Linked DNA regions of Homo sapiens. The protein of the gene in region 3 interacts with the protein of the main gene of each other region in a pairwise test. Each region holds a gene or a part of one and is shown on either strand. Other genes may lie near its edges.

Region 1 (3,500 bases), on a different chromosome or scaffold from region 3:
TAGGGGCAGGAATACAACTGCAGTGAGGTTATGTCCTCTCCAGTTTTCATATCAGCAAGCACATGATGTGGGGATTGTCCCAGTGCTGGTGATGGGAGCTTTTATCACTTGCTTAAGAATAATGTCTGCCAGTTTCTCCACTGCAAAATTATTATTTTTTCTCTCTGGAATTAATAAGTAATTTGTAGTGAGATACTTTGAGACTGTGTATAACCTGTTCCTTATCAAACTTATACCCACTGATTTTATCATCGTTGATCATTTTGAATCAATTATTTCTTCCGTATTTAGTAGTTGGCATTCTACTTTAAAAAAATCTTTTCCCCACTCCCTCCCTTCCTATCACTAGGGTCTCATGAATTCTTCATTTATTCAATGGGTTATAGTCAATTATTATCTTTATTTTATCTCAATGTTCACATTGTCCCAAACTTGATTAGTGGGAGGCTCTGCAAGCTGGCTTTCTTTGTTTTTGATGCATCTCCATGATTCTCTGTGCTCTTCCTTACTATTTACTATAGCAAGAAGTTACAGGCTTAGTTTCCTTACTTTGCTACAGCCCTGGAATTAGCCATTTGTCTGAAGAGCCCTGGATCCTTTTAGTCGAAAATGGTATTTAGAAACCAAGATTTAAAGGCTACCTGTGCTCCTTGTGATTGGTGTGTCATCGTTTATATGCTCTCTTAGCAAACAGAGTTAGGACATATATGTATATTTATTTCTCCAATCAACCAATACAATACATTGTTACATGTTTTTAGAAGAAAAAACCCCAAAGACTGTGATAGAGAGTAATGGGGTAGGAATACTTTAGATTGGGTGGTTAGAAATGGCCTCTTTCAGGAGGCAATATTTAGACAGACAGCATGAGGTGGGTGAATGGATTGGAAGAAGAAAGAGCCTGGAGATTGTTTTAATTATTCATACAGTAATTACCAGGGCCTGAACTAAGTTCGAATGAAGAGGAGGTAGAATCAATAGGACACAGTGACCGGTGAATGCAGAAAGTGAGGGAGATGAAGGAGTCTAAGTGACTCCCAGTTTGATGCCTCAAAGGCCTCTCAAACTCAATGTGTCCAAAACAGAATTTCTGTAGTTCTTCATCCTACTGAAACCTGGTCCTCTTCAGGTATTTTAGATTTCGTTGAATGACTCCTTCGTCTGGGTAGCTGCACAAGGCAGACAGACCTGGCAGTCATCCTCAACACCTCTCTCCCTCAAAACCCATATCCAATCCGTCCCCATATCTTGTTGATATTAGCTTGTAAATATCTCTCAAATCTTTCACTTCTTTCCATCTCCACCAGCATCATCCTAGTTCATGGTACCATCTTCACATTTCTGGGGTACCACAAGAGCCCCCTGGTACCCTTATATCCACACTGGCTCCCCTCCAATTTGTTCTCCACACAGCAGCCAGAGCGCATTTCAAAACACAACTCTGTTCATATCATTTTCTTCCTTAAAAGTACATTAGTTGCCTCCTATTGATCTTAAGATAAAGACCACACTCCTTAATAAGTCCTACAAGGTCTTGCTTGCCTGGCCCTGCTGCCCTCTCCTACATCTCCCTACCCAGCACTCCCTCCCTGGCTCTCCCTGCCACACTGGCCTCAGCTGAGTCTCAGTCTCTAGGGCTTGTTAGGCTCCCTCCCACCATAAATCTTTGTATTTGCTGTTCCTCTGCTTAGAATGCTCGTTCTTCCTGACTCCACCTACCGAATTCCTGCTTTACTCTCAGTTCTCAGCTGAGTTGTCACTTTCATAATCTTCAGGACCAGGTCCAACCCCATTTTATAAAGTTTTAAAACATGTGCCTCCTTCAAGCCTTTATCATAGTTTCAATTTTACATTTATTTATGTAATCATTAATGCTTACTTTCTCTATATGATGATGAGCTCTGTGAGTGTTGGAACCATGTCTGGTTTTGCTCGTTACTTTATCCTAGCAGGTATCATGGTACCATGTTACTGACACATGCCACAAATATATGTTGAACAAATGAATGAATGAAGATTTATCATCTGAGTAACCAGATAGATGATGGAACCATTCAGTGGAATAAAAATGAGAAGAGAAGTAGATTTGAGGAGGAAAATGATCATTCATTTTGGGACACCTGGCATTTGGGGTGCCTGCCAACCATGTCTGTCCCTCAGAGACCTTACCATCTTCTGTACAAATTAAGATGTCACTAAGGAGCTTTTGGGAGGCTGGTGACAGGTACATCTAATTCCCGGATGATTCTAAGAAGGTCCCTGGAGGAGATGGCTAAGTCACAAGTGGCATCCCTGAGCTGTGGCTTCTCTATCTATCCTTATCTCTGGTTTGTAGACCATACAGGAGATAGAAGGGGTTCCCAGGTGGTCCTGACTTGGCTCCTTGGGGACTTGTATAAAATATCTTTACAATTCTATGGAAGACTCCTTGGAACAAATGATTCACATTTGTCAGGAGCTGTCAACCTCCTTCCTACCTCTAACACTGCACTAGACATATGCTTAAAGGAGAATACAGAAAGTGGGTCTTACTAAGTCCAGTGAGCCATCCTTTCAAAGATGTCATCAGCACTAGGACAGAACAGCCCATTCCATCCCTCTGACTCACTTACTCTTACATTCCTCACTCACTCATTCAACTTTCTATCTCCTCTTGTTCATTCACCCACACACCCATCTGTCACCCAGCTATCCATCCGTGAACAAGAGTTTATGTTGGATTTATAGCAGGACTCAAGGCTAATGCATTATCTTCAGCCCCACTCCTGTATCCCTCTTTTCTATGGTCCTCACAGCTCAGAATCCCAGGTGAGGAGACTGTCAGGGGTTGGGGAGATGTCACTGTGCTGGTCTAGGGCTGGGCTGGGTATGATTGCAGGGTGTCAGCAGGAAGAATGGGAGACCAGAAGTGGCCACACTGATTACTCCTCTTGGCTCACTATCTGCTTTTCTGGCTTCCCCTCTTTCATTGGTGATGAGAAATTAGAGATTAGGCTCCTTATTCAGGTAGATATAAGATAGACTGGGCTTTGCAGAGGTGTTAGGGGGCTCTGGCCTTAAGGGGAAATAGGAACACAGCTCCCCATGAGCCCTATGGTGGAAAAGGTGATGCTTTTGTTTTCTTCTTCATTTTAGACTATGATTGCACTTTGGCCCTGTGGAATTTGCAGAGAGGCTGGGGGAGGGTGGGAGAGTAGGATTTTAAAATGTGGCATTTAGAAACCAGGCAGTAGACTAATCCTGGCCCCATCCCCATAGAAGCTGTTCTTTCAGTTCTCTTAGGCTTGTCATTTACAAAGAGCTCCCTAGAATGTGTGCTGTCCATCTGCTTTGGCGGCTGACAGGGCTGGAATTGAGCAGGCATAGGACAATGACAGCCACATTAGATAACAGCATCTTGGAAAAATGCCTGAAGGTTGCAAGGGTCTAAGTTACAGACTCATTTGCTCATTCCCTCCCTCACGAATTCATTCATTTATCTACTTAGCACCTACCTAGTA
Region 2 (3,500 bases), on a different chromosome or scaffold from region 3:
ACAGAAGGCAGCCACAGTGAAATCAGACATCTACAGCTTTTCTATGATCATGCAGGAGATTTTAACAGGTAGATCAAGATCATTAATGGTTGACCAAAGTCCCTATTCTTAGGTTGCATTTTTCTCCCCCCACAGGAGTTACTGACTTTTATGAAAATAGAAGACTTATTAAAAAGAGACTTCTTGGCTGGGAGCAGTGGCTCACGCCTGTAATCCCAGCACTTTGGGAGGCTGAGGCGGGTGGATCACCTGAAGTCAGGAGTTCAAGACGAGCCTGGCCAAAATGGTGAAACCCTGTCTCTACTAAAAATACAAAAATTAGCTGGGCGTGGTGGCACGTGCCTGTAGTCCCAGCTACTTGGGAGGCTGAGGCAGGAAAATCACTTGAACCTGGGAGGCAGAGGTTGCAGTGAGCTGAGATAGCGCCACTGCACTCCAGCCTGGGTGACAGAGTGAGACTCTGTCTCAAAAGAAAAAAAAAAGACTCAGCAAAGCCCATCCATCTGCTTGTCAGTGATGATGCATTTAATCCACACTAAAAAAATTTATTTTTATTTTTATTTTTTATTTTTTTTGAGACAGAGTCTTGCTCTGACACCCAGGCTGGAGTGCAGTGGCTCGATCTCGGTTTACTGCAACCTCTGCCTCCCGGGTCCAAGCGATTCTTCTGCCTCAGCCTCCCGAGTAGCTGGGACTACAGGTGCACACCACCACGCCCAACTGATTTTTGCATTTTTAGTAGAGACGGGGTTTTACCATATTGGCCAGGCTGGTCTCGATCGCTTGACCTTGTGATCTACCCACCTCGGCCTCCTGAAGTGCTGAGATTACAGGTGTGAGCCACCACGCCCGGCCGAAGCAAACTTTTTAACCTGAATATTGGTATCAGTACTTATGATCTATGTGTGGTATCCCTTGAGAACTTGTAAATTAGGGGGAAAGACTAGCCTCTGAGAAGTAAACTATGAAACACACCCTGTGTCCATTAGATGTATAAACAGTGTCACTTGAAAGAAATGGATGTACTTCCAAATCCACTGCTCTGATGTGGAGAAAGTAGTCACATATCTGAAGATGGAAGGAATCCTTCAAAAGAAAGACACACACACACACACACACACACACACACACACACACACACACACACACACACACACAGTAAAATCACATTAAGGGCTGCTTTTTTTTTTTTTTGACAGAGTCTCACTCTGTTGCCCAGGCTGAAGTGCAGTGGCGGGATCTTGGCTCACTGCAACTTCTGCCTCCCGGGTTCAAGCGATTCTCCTGCCTCAGCCTCCCAAGTAACTGGGACTACAGGCGCGTGCCACCATGCCCGGCTAATTTTTTCTATTTTTAGTACAGACGGGGTTTCACCGTATTAGCCAGGATGGTCTGGATCTCCTGACCTCGTGATCCGCCCACCTCAGCCTCCTAAAGTGCTGGGATTACAGGCGTGAGCCAACGTGCAAGGCTTTTTTTTTTTTTTTTTTTAAGATGGAGTCTTACTCTGTTGCCCAGGCTGGAGTGCAGTGGCGCGATCTCAGCTCACTGCAACCTCCACCTCCTGGGTTCAAGTGATTCTCCTGCCTCGGCCTCCCAGAGTAGCTGAGATTACATGTGCTCGCCACCACACCCAGCTAATTTTTGTATTTTTAGTAGGGATGGGATTTCACTGTGTTGGCCAGGCTGGTTTCAACCTCTGACCTCAGGTGATCCACCCACCTCGGCCTCCCAAAGTGCTAGGATTACAGGCGTGAGCCACCACGCCCGGCCAAGGGCTGCTTTTTTATGGTGTTTGCAGTCCCAGAGGCAAAATGACAATATACATGAGATGAATATTGGGCTCCCCTGCCAGCGGGGAGCCCATGTGTACATGTTGCTGACACTATTGTTTCCTATCTCTGTGGCGGTGATCTCTCTGGTAAATGAGTAAAGTGGCTTCTCACTTATGAATTGGCCTTCCAGGTAGTTTTTTTTTGTTTTTTTGTTTTCTGTTTTTGTTGCTAGGCTGGAGTGCAGTGGCGCAATCTCAGCTCACTACAACCTCTGCCTCCCGGGTTCAAGCGATTCTCCTGCCTTAGCCTCCTGAGTGGCTGGGATTGCAGGTGTGCGCCACCACGCCTGGCTAATTTTTGTATTTTTAGTAGAGAGGGGATTTCACCATGTTGGCCAGGACGGTCTCGATCTCTTGACCTTGTGATCCACCCGCCTCGGCCTCCCAAAGTGCTGGGATTACAGGTGTAAGCCACCACGCCCGGCCCCTCTGGGTAGTTTTTCTACAGAGAGAAATTAATATATAAGGAAATGAATTGTTTCTAAAGTACAGTGGATTAGAAAAAAAAATAAAGAAGTTAAGTGACTTGCCTAAGGTTACCCAGCTTCATCTGATTTCTTTTCCCCCCACTCCACTCTTTGGTTTCCTAATTTACTCTTTTGTATGACTTTTTCCTTACAGATGACATACCCTGGAAGGGCTTAGATGGCTCAGTTGTTAAAAAAGCCGTAGTCTCGGGGAATTATTTAGAAGCTGATGTCAGGCTTCCGAAACCTTACTATGATATTGTTAAGTCAGGCATCCACGTCAAGCAGAAAGACCGAACTATGAACCTTCAAGATATCCGGTATATTCTGAAGAATGACTTAAAGGCAAGCCCTGAAGTTGTTGGGAGTTTATTTCTGCTTACCTAACTCAGGAGAATAGGGAGTTAGAGACAAGATGAAGCTAGAGACCAAGTTGTAAGAAATTTTGGAAATCCTCATTTTATTACACCATTTCTGTGTTCTTGATAATAGCCTAACTGCTTAACTTGGTGAAAGCAGCATGGAATTGAGGAGGGGAGCTAGGGAGGTTCAACACATATGCATAGTAGGGGCACCCTGTAGGCACTTAGTGGAGATTCAGTGAATGGTAGCTATTATTATTGCTTTTAAGGTATTGGCAATAACAATAAACTAGTTAATTAGGACTAAAGTCAGTCTACCCAACAGGAATAAGAGGGAGTTTATCAGATACTTAGATGGTTTCTAAAGCACCAGTGACATTCAGGATGACTGAGACTATGTCCTTGACAATATTTCCTGTGTTACAGGATTTTACTGGAGCCCAGAGAACTCAACCAACCGAGAGCCCCAGAGTGCAGAGATACGGACTCCATCCCGATGTCAATGTCTATCTAGGACTGACTTCAGAACACCCCAGAGAGACACCTGACATGGAAATCATAGAACTAAAGGAAATGGGTATGGCCTTAATTCACAGGTTGTGTTAGTTTGACACAAATGTGTTCTGAGAGTCACATGAGCTGCAACTAATTGACTCCTCTAAACTGTAGATGTAACTTGTTTGTTTTGTGAGATAAAGTCTAGCTCTATTGCCCAGACTGGAGTACAGTGGCATGCTCTCAGCTCACTGCAACCTCCACTTCCTGGGTTCAAGTGATTCTCATGCCTCAGCCTCCTGAGTAGCTGGGATTACAGGCATGTGCCACCATGCTGGGCTA
Region 3 (5,251 bases):
CCCTCCAGCGCCCGTCCCTGGCCGCGGGGCCGCTGGCTGGAGTCTCTGCCCTGGGGACACCGACTCCGCAGGCCGGCCCCGAACCTCGCACTTTCCCGCCGGCGCGCCTTTGCCCGCACTGGTCGCCGTCGCCACGCGCCATCCTCGCGTCCAACCCCATCTGCTTCCACGCTCGGCTCCAGTGTTGCCGCCATTCCCAGTGGCCGTCGGGGCCCTTCTCCCCTCCCGGGACCGCCCTGGTGATCCGCGCGTCTCTGCGCTTCCCAGGGGTGCTCGGTGCCTCCTTAGACACAGCGTGGCTGCCAGAGCCTGGGGGTCGAAGGCCATGCGCCACAGGGAGGGAGGGAGGGCGGGTGGGGCTTGGGAGGACCCGACAGAAACCCCGTTGACCGCCTGGTCAGCACCCCTCCTTCCCCACAGCGGGGGTTGGGGGGTGGGGGGACCCAGGCCAGGACAGGTCCTTTCCTCCTCTGGGCCTCAGTCTCCCCACAGGCAGAGGCCGCTGGGCGGAGCACAGCCAATTCTAGAAATGTTCATGGAATGAACAGGTCCAGGAGCCTGCCAGAGCCCCTGCCCGGTTTAGCCCTGCAGACCTGGGGTCTGTGGGCGCCTAGAGGTCAGCAGAGGTCAGGGTCAGGGCAGACTGGACATCAGACCTTCTCCCGGTGATGTTCCTCAGAGGTCCTTTGCCCCAGCCCCATCACTCCCAGTCCCCAGGGTTGCCCAAGCCTGCATGGCTGAGGACAGTCTCCCGCTCTTTTCTCCCAAGCTGCCCTCCCCTCTTCCCCCTCTTCCCTCCCCTTCCCCTTCTTCCCTCCTCTCTCCTCCCTCCCCACTCTTCCCTCCCCTCCCCTTCTCCATCTTCCCTCCCCTCTCCTCCCTTCCCTCCCCTTTCCTGGGCCTTAGCTTTCTCTTCTGTGAGATTGAGAGGAGAGGCCGCTGTGGGACTCAGAAGAGGATGTGCCTGACACACATCCCGAAACGATGAAAAGGACGTCCCTTAAAAGACAACTGTTCCCTTGGCCAGGTGCGGTGGCTCACACCTGTAATCCCAGCACTTTTGGAGGCCAAGGCGGGTGGATCACCTGAGGTCAGGAGTTCGAGGCTAGCCTGGCCAACATGGTGAAACCTTGTCTCTACTAAAAATACAAAACTGGGAATGGTGCTGCGCGCCTGTAATCCCAGCTACTTGGGAGGCTGAGGCAAGAGAATCGCTTGAACCCAGGAGGCGGAGGTTGTGGTGAGCGGAGATCACGCCATTGCACTCCAGCCTGGGCAACAAGAGCAAAACTCCATTTAAAAAAAAACCACACAACTGGTCCCAACCAGTTCCCCCCAAAAGATGGCTGGTCCTGGAGAGACTTGGAAGTCTGCAGCTCAGAGCAGCTTCCCTTGGCCACATTCTGGAGGGGCCTCCGCACCCTTACTGGGGGAACTGAGGCCAGTGCAAAGGTCCCCATGAAAGGCATGGGGACTCCTCCACCTTCCCTCCCCGTCCACTGAGAAATAGGGAGCCCAGGCTCCAAGGGGCCTCCTCCCTCCAGCCCCCACTCTGCTCCAGGGAGACCCCCTCAGAGGAAGAGACCCTCAGGGAGGAGGCCCAGCCCTCCTTCCTGCAGGAGGGAAGGCCGAGGTGGAAGGGCCAACCCTGCCTGCTTCTACCACTGCCCCTATAGGAGCACTTACCTGGGGGTGGGGGTGGGGCGCATACAACTTCTTTCTGCCCTCTGAGGGGACTGTCATCACTGTCTTCTCTTTACGGCGGCGGCGGGGTTGGGGGGGTTGGGGGGTGGGGACGGGGAAGCAGGGCTCAGAGGGTTCCAGCCCCCAGCCCAGGGTCACACAGCAAGTTAGAAGAGCCAGGATTGGAATCCAAGCTGGAGAGACTTCCATGACCATGAGCCTGGTCACCCTACCAGCCTATGTCCTGGGGTTGGTGCCAGCTGCAAGCTGTGAATGGCACACACGGCCCACCTCCCACCCCCATCATGCTCTCTGGACATCCCAACCCCTGCCTCTCCCAGGGACAGGGTGTGGAGACCGCAACCCCTCCCCTCCATCAGGAAGGGATGGGCTGTTCCCCCCACCTCCTTCCAGTGCTCATGAGCATGGCCAAGATCCAGGGATAAAGAGAGCCCAAATTCATACTAGGTGCCAGCCCAAGCAACGAACTAGGGGGACTCAGGGCCCCTCCAGGGCTGCCTCTCAACATTCACAGAATGTTCCCCACACCCAACACTCCCCAACCCCCGCAGCCTCAAAAAAACGCGGGCCTTCCATTGACTGTAACTGACAAATTTATTGAAGTCTTGGAAAGAGCTGATCACCCGAGAATAAATAAAAGACACAGAACATTCACAGAACCAATAGGTAGCTCGAGATTCAGGTTTGCGGGAGTGACTTTGACTTACACACAGGCCAGCCTTTGTGTCTGGGGCACGCACAGCTGCGGGCATCTCCCAGAAACTTCTTCCCAAAGGATCTGATGGAGGAGGCAGGGCAGGCTCAGAGGAGCCCCACCCTTCTCCAGCGGGGAGACTTCCCAATCTGGGGCTGGCAGAGCCGGCTCCGGCAGGGAGGGCAGGCTGTTTGGCAACAGACATCTGTGGGTGCAGCCTGGACACCAAGGGCCTGGGGTGGGGTGAGGAGGAGACCCTGAGGGGCTTAGAGAATTGAGCTTGGAGAGAAGGGGCGCCAGGCATTTTTGCCTCCTCCACAGGATACTCGAGAACAGAATGATCTAGAGACCTGGGGATTGGGGAAAGCTTCTCCCGGGGAAGGTGGGGCTGGAGGCAGAGAGGCCCCCTGTGGTCTGGGGAGAGGAGGGGGCCTCTCCCGGAGGACACAGGTGTGTCCCCGCCTCTGCAGCCTCTTGCCTCGACAGGCAAGGCCAATCTCCGACCTAAAGAGGGAGCCTCGGGGTGACGGCTCCAAGACACATGGAGCCTGGGAAGTGAAAGCACAATTATGATGATTTCTCAGTTTTAGAGATGAAAGCGTTTTTCCAGCCCTCGGGCTATGCTGGGCTGGGCTGGGCCTCAGCAAGGTGACATTTCATGTCTAGAAATAGCAGCAAGTGCTCAGTTAATTGGTCAATAAAGGGGAGAAATTTGCTTACAAAAAAGGCTGGCTTGCTGGGAGGCCACCTGGCGGGCCAGCCCTGTGTCAGAGGAGGGGCCAGGTGGGTCCCTCAGCCCCCAGAGAGGGAGCTGTGCGGTCGGCAGTGGGAGGCTCCGAAGGCACCAGCCCTCCCTTGACGCCCTGGCCCCACTTCCTCGGAAACCCCAGCAGCCCCGAGCCGCCCACCCAGGGGCAGCTCCCTCGTGTGAGGTGCAGGGTGGAGCCGGGCCTGGGTCAGAACTGAGCGTGGTCTACCTCATCCAGCCAGGAGGCGGGGCTGGCAGGGAAGTCGGGGTAACCCCCGCTGCTCCCCGTGGATAGGTCAGAACTGGGTCCGTTCCCTGCCAGCACCCTCATGGGTGGGGGCCCGCCGGGGGCTCCCGAGGGCACAAGGCCCAAGCTGGTGTCTGGGTACACCAGGCTGGAGAGGAGGGGCTGGGGGCCAGGGAGGCTCTGCGGGGCGGCGGGGGATGGGGGGACACCGTAGGGGCTGCCGGGACGCAGCTCTCGGTACTGCTCTGGGCCTGCCAGGCCTCCATGCTCCAGGGAGAAGTTGCCCAGGGCTCCCGAGGGCCGGCCCAAGGCCTGGGTGGGTTCCCCCAAGCTCCCGTAGAGGCCATTGGCCGGGCCCATTTCCGCCAAGGAAGGCTCATCTGCAACAGAAGCAGAGGCTCAGTCAGCGCCTGCCCTCCACCTGCGGCCCCTCAGAGTCCCATCCTGCAGGCGGAGGCACCCCTGGGTCGGAGAAAGAGTGGCTGCCCCACACCACATGACAGGTCATAACAGGCCCCTTCTACTGTTGGAGCATGGCTGCCCCTGCCCCTCCACTGCCCTCACCCCTGAGTCAGCCCAGGTGTCTCAGGCCTGGTGGGATCAGAGTCAGGAACAGCCCAGCCAGGGCCCAGGCTTTCAGGACCAGCCCCACAGCAGCCTAGGAAGGGGGCACAGATACCACCACCCACATTTTGCAGACAAGGATATTTAGTTCCAGAGTGGCTGAGTGAGTAGCCCGGGTCACGAGGCAGCCCAAAAGAGAGTGTCTTGTCCACATTCTGAGGATGGGCATCAACAGATGGGGACGCAGCATCCCCGGTGCCCGGAGAATGAAATAAATAATCCAGGCCCCACAGAAGGGTATGGAACCTTCTCTCCCTGACCCCAGGTAGCCCCCTCCCCCAACTCCAAGCAGCTGGGACTTCGACTCAGTCTTTCCCGAAATGCACTGCCCATTCTCCTAAAAATCACTGCAAGGGCTAGGAGCCAGAGAGACGGCCTGGACACGCCCACCCCCCCATGAGAAAGCCCGTAGGCGCCCAGCTTGGGGACAGGTCGGGCCACAGGGATTGTGTCCCCACCAGGGGAAAAGCAGTGGTCCGGAGTGGCCACCCAGGGCGGGGAGGGTGCTGGGGGAGCAGGTTCTGTAAGTGAAATGCTTTTGAAAGTAGAACTTAAGGAGTCCACTAACTCCATGGGAAATTCAGATCCGCGGGCTCCCTGGGACCCCTGCGACCCCGCCGACGCGCGCTCGTCCCCCCCCGAGCTCCGCGATCCCTCCGCCTACCGGGGAAGGAGACCTCAGCGTCGCTGTCCTGCCCCTCCTGAACGCTGTCCTTGTCCGACTTGGAGCCGCCGCGGGAGCGCTTCATGTTGCGGAAATACTGCCCCCAGCGCTGCCGGCCGGCGTCCTTCTTCAGCCTCTTCTCCTTGGCCCGGCGGTTCTGGAACCAAACCTGGGGGCGGGGCGGGGTGAGCGGCCGCCCGGCTCTGCGGGGGCCCCCAAGGCCGCGGGCGGGAGGGAAGCAGGGGCGAGCGCTGACCTGCACCACGCGCATGTCCAGGCCCGTCTCGGACGAGAGCTGCTCGCGCACGTGGCGCGCCGGCTTGGGCGAGGTGTTGTAAGCGCTCTTCAGCGTCTCCAGCTGCTTGGCGGTGATGGTCGTGCGCGGCCGCTTGGCCGTGGCCTCGGCCTCTGCGCGGCGGGCGAGCGGTGAGGCGCGGCAGCCCCTCCGGCCCCGGCCGGACCCCCAGCCCTCCCACCCCGGCCGGCGCGGGGACGTCGGGGCCTCAGGTGCCCACCCCCATCCCGCCCCACAGGCTTCTCGGAAGGCGCGGGCGCTGGGAGCGATTGGCA
Region 4 (3,500 bases), on a different chromosome or scaffold from region 3:
TTTCTCTCTGGTCACATGCTCTCTACACAGCCAGCTCTCCTTTGCCTTCTGCCATGAGTAGAAGCAACTTGAGGCCCTCACCAAATGCAGATGCCCAATCTTGAGCTTCTCCAGACATCAGAATCATGAGCTAAATAAACCTTTTTTCTTTATAAATTATGCAACCTCGGGTATTCCTTTGTAGCAGCATGAAAGAGACTGAGACTTCTCATTGTTCCCTTCCCCCATTCCCAGGGAACATCTAATCTGCTTTCTGCCTCTACGAATGTCCCTTTTCTGGGTATTTTATATAAGTGGAATCATATTTGTCATTTTTTGTCTGGCTATTTTTTTTTTTTTTTTTTTTTTGAGACGGAGTCTCGCTCTGTCACCCAGGCTGGAGTGCAGTGGTGCGATCTCAGCTCACTGCAAGCTCCGCCTCCCGGGTTCACGCCATTCTCCTGCCTCGGCCTCTTGAGTAGCTGGGACTACAGGCGCCCGCCACCACGCCTGGCTAATTTTTTTGTAGTTTTAGTAGAGACGGGGTTTCACCGTGTTAGCCAGGATGGTCTCGAACTCCTGACCTCGTGATCCGCCCGCCTCGGCCTCCCAAAGTGCTGGGATTACAGGCGTGAGTCACCGCGCCCGGCCTTGTCTGGCTATTTCACTTAGCATAAAGTTTTCATAGTTCATCCATGTTATAGCATATGTCAGAATATCACTCCTTATTTTGGCTGAATGAAAAGGAATATCCTTTGTATATATATGCATTTTATCACTTCTCAGCCTTTTGGCCGAGATCAAGTGTATGTACCGCGTTTTGTTTATTCTTATGTTGATGGACAACTTGGGTTGTTTTCATCTTTTGGCTATTGGAAAATGCTACAATGAACAATAGTATACAGGTGTCTGAGTGGCTGATTTCAAAACTTTTTGAGTGCATTCCTAGCAGCAGAATTGCTAGGTCATATAGTAATTCTCTGTTTAGGTTTTGAGGAACTGTCATATCATTTTGTATGACAACTTCACCATTTTACAGTCCCACTAGCAATGTACAAGGATTCCAGTTTTTCCACATCCTTGCCAACACTGATTATTTTCTGTTTATTTTTAGTATAGCCATCCTAGTAGATGTGAAGTTGTATTTCATTGTTGTTTTGATTTGCATTTCTGTCGTGATTAATGTTGTTTAGCATCTTTTCATGTGCTTATTGACCATTTGTATGTCTTCTTTAGAATAATGTCTGTGGAAGTCCTTTGCCTTTTTTTTTTTTTTTTCCTGGAAACAGGCTTTTGCTCTTGTTGCCCAGGCTGGAGTGCAATGGCATGATCTTGGTTTACTGCAGCCTCCGCCTCCTGGGTTCAAGCGATTCTCCTGCCTCAGCCTCCCGAGTAGCTAGCTGGGATTACAGGTGCCTGCCACCACACTCGGCTAATTTTTTGTATTTTTAGTAGAAATGGGGTTTCACCATGTTGGCCAGGCTGGTCTCGGACTCCTGACCTCAGGTGATCCACCCGCCTCAGCCTCCCAAATTGCTGGGATTACAGGTGTGAGCCACTGCGCCCGGCCCCTTTCCCATTTTTAAATTGGGTTGTCTTTTGTGTTTATGAGCAGTAGAGTTCTTTATATATTCAGAATATGAAACCTCTATCAGATATATGATTTCCAAATATTTTCTCTCATCCTTGTCCTTTCACTTTCTAGATAATGTCCTTTGATGCACAAAAATTTTAGTTTGTTTTTGTTTTTTTGAGACAGGGTCTATTCTGTTGCCAAGGGTGGAGTGCAGTGGTGCAATCACAGCTCACCTGCAGCCTTGACCTCTCAGGCTTAAGTGATCCTCCCACTTCAGCCTCCCATGTAGCTGGGACTACAGGCATGCACCACCATGCCTGGCTAGTTTTTAAATTTTTTTGTAGAGATGGGGTCTCCCTATGTTGCCCAGGCTGGTCTTGAACTCCTGGGCTCAAGCAATCCTCCCACCTTGGCCTCCCAAATTGCTGGGAATGCGGGTGTGAGCCACCACACCCAGTCAGTTTTAACTTTTGATGAAGTTCAATTTATCTATTTTTTTCTTTTGCTGCTATCCTTTTGGTGTCCTATCTAAGAATCCATTGCCAAATCCAAGATCATGAGGATTTACCTCTATGTTTTCTTCTAAGAGTTTTGTGGTTTTAGCTCTTACATTTAGATCATTGAGATAACTTTTGTATATGGTGTGAGATAGGTGAGGTTCAACTTAATTCTCTTGTGTATGAAAATCTAGTTTTCCCCATAACATCTGTTGAAGAGACTATTCTTTCCCCACCAGTTAGAGTTGGCACCCTTGTCAAAAATCATTTGGCCACAGATATGTGGATTTATTTCTGAACTCTCAAATTCTTTAAGGACAGAAACATTTTCTTCAGGCTGGGCATGGTGGCTTATGCCTGTAATCCCAGCACTTTGGGTGGCCGAGGTGGGAGGATCACTTGAGTTCAGGAGTTTGAGACCAGCTGGGGCAACATGGTGAAACCTCATCTTCACAAAAAATTACAAAATTAGCTGGGTGTTGTGGCACATGCCTATGGTCCCAGCTACTAAGGAGGCTGAGGTGGGAGGATTGTTTGAGCCCAGGAGGTCGAGGCTGCAGTGAATTGAGATCGCACCACTGCACTCCAGCCTGGATGACTAGAGTGAGACCCTATCTCAAAAAACAAAAAAAAAGAAGGATTTTCTTCAAATTTCTGACAGCGTCTAGTACAGTATCTCTTGATAGCAGGTTCAAATGTTGAATGGAAAAACTGAAGCCTGGACATTTATCATAAGAAAACTTTTGTTGTGAAGGTACATCTCCCCTTGAGAAAACAAATAGAGCATAGCTGCTGCAAATCATACAAAACCATAGAAAAATTTAAAAGACATGTACGACCAGGTGCGGTGACTCATGCCTGTAATCTCAGCACCTTGGGAGGCCAAGTCAGGTGGATTACTTGAGCCCACAAATTCAAGACCAGCCTAGGTAACATGGTGAAACCTCATATCTACCATAAATACAAAAATGAGCCGGGTGTGGTGGTGTGTACCTGTAGTCCCAGCTACTTTGGAGGCTAAGGTGGGAGGATCCTTTGGGCCCAGGAGGTTGAGGCTGCAGTGAGCATTGAATATACCATTGCACTCCAGCCTGGGCAGCAGAACAAGACCCTGTCTCAAAACAAAAACAAAAACATGTACAGATGCTTCTTGACTTGTGATGGGGTTATATCCCAATAAACCCATTGCAAGTTGAAAATATTATAAGTTGAAAATGGATTTAGTACACCTAACCTATCAAACATCATGTCTTAGCCTTGCCTACCTTAAGTGTCCTCAGAATACTTACCTTAGCCCACATTTGGGCAAAATCATCTAACACAAAGCCTATGTTACAATGAAGTCTTGGCTGTCTCCTGTAATTTTTTGTACTGTAGTGAAAGTGAATGGTTGTATGGGTACTCAAAGTATGGTTCCTACCAAACACGTATCTCTTTTGCACCATCTT

The links. Proteins that work in one complex are often made in the same cells at the same time.
Region 1: the proteins of LHX3 (region 3) and INSC interact in binary tests that used the Homo sapiens proteins (3 or more experiments, as listed by UniProt).
Region 2: the proteins of LHX3 (region 3) and TEX14 interact in binary tests that used the Homo sapiens proteins (3 or more experiments, as listed by UniProt).
Region 4: the proteins of LHX3 (region 3) and FAIM interact in binary tests that used the Homo sapiens proteins (3 or more experiments, as listed by UniProt).

Annotation. Positions count from the first base shown.
Region 1 is NC_000011.10:15,121,423-15,124,922, forward strand, and holds part of INSC (protein inscuteable homolog), read left to right. Parts: intron 1-3,500. UniProt on the Homo sapiens protein: May function as an adapter linking the Par3 complex to the GPSM1/GPSM2 complex. Involved in spindle orientation during mitosis. May regulate cell proliferation and differentiation in the developing nervous system.
Region 2 is NC_000017.11:58,601,546-58,605,045, reverse strand, and holds part of TEX14 (inactive serine/threonine-protein kinase TEX14), read left to right. Parts: coding exon 1-68; intron 69-2,455; coding exon 2,456-2,646; intron 2,647-3,089; coding exon 3,090-3,240; intron 3,241-3,500.
Region 3 is NC_000009.12:136,193,971-136,199,221, forward strand, and holds the end of LHX3 (LIM/homeobox protein Lhx3), read right to left. Parts: intron 5,090-5,251; coding exon 4,938-5,089; intron 4,851-4,937; coding exon 4,682-4,850; intron 3,774-4,681; coding exon 3,355-3,773; 3' UTR 2,280-3,354; downstream 1-2,279. UniProt on the Homo sapiens protein: Transcription factor.
Region 4 is NC_000003.12:138,611,771-138,615,270, forward strand, and holds part of FAIM (fas apoptotic inhibitory molecule 1), read left to right. Parts: intron 1-3,500. UniProt on the Homo sapiens protein: Plays a role as an inducible effector molecule that mediates Fas resistance produced by surface Ig engagement in B cells.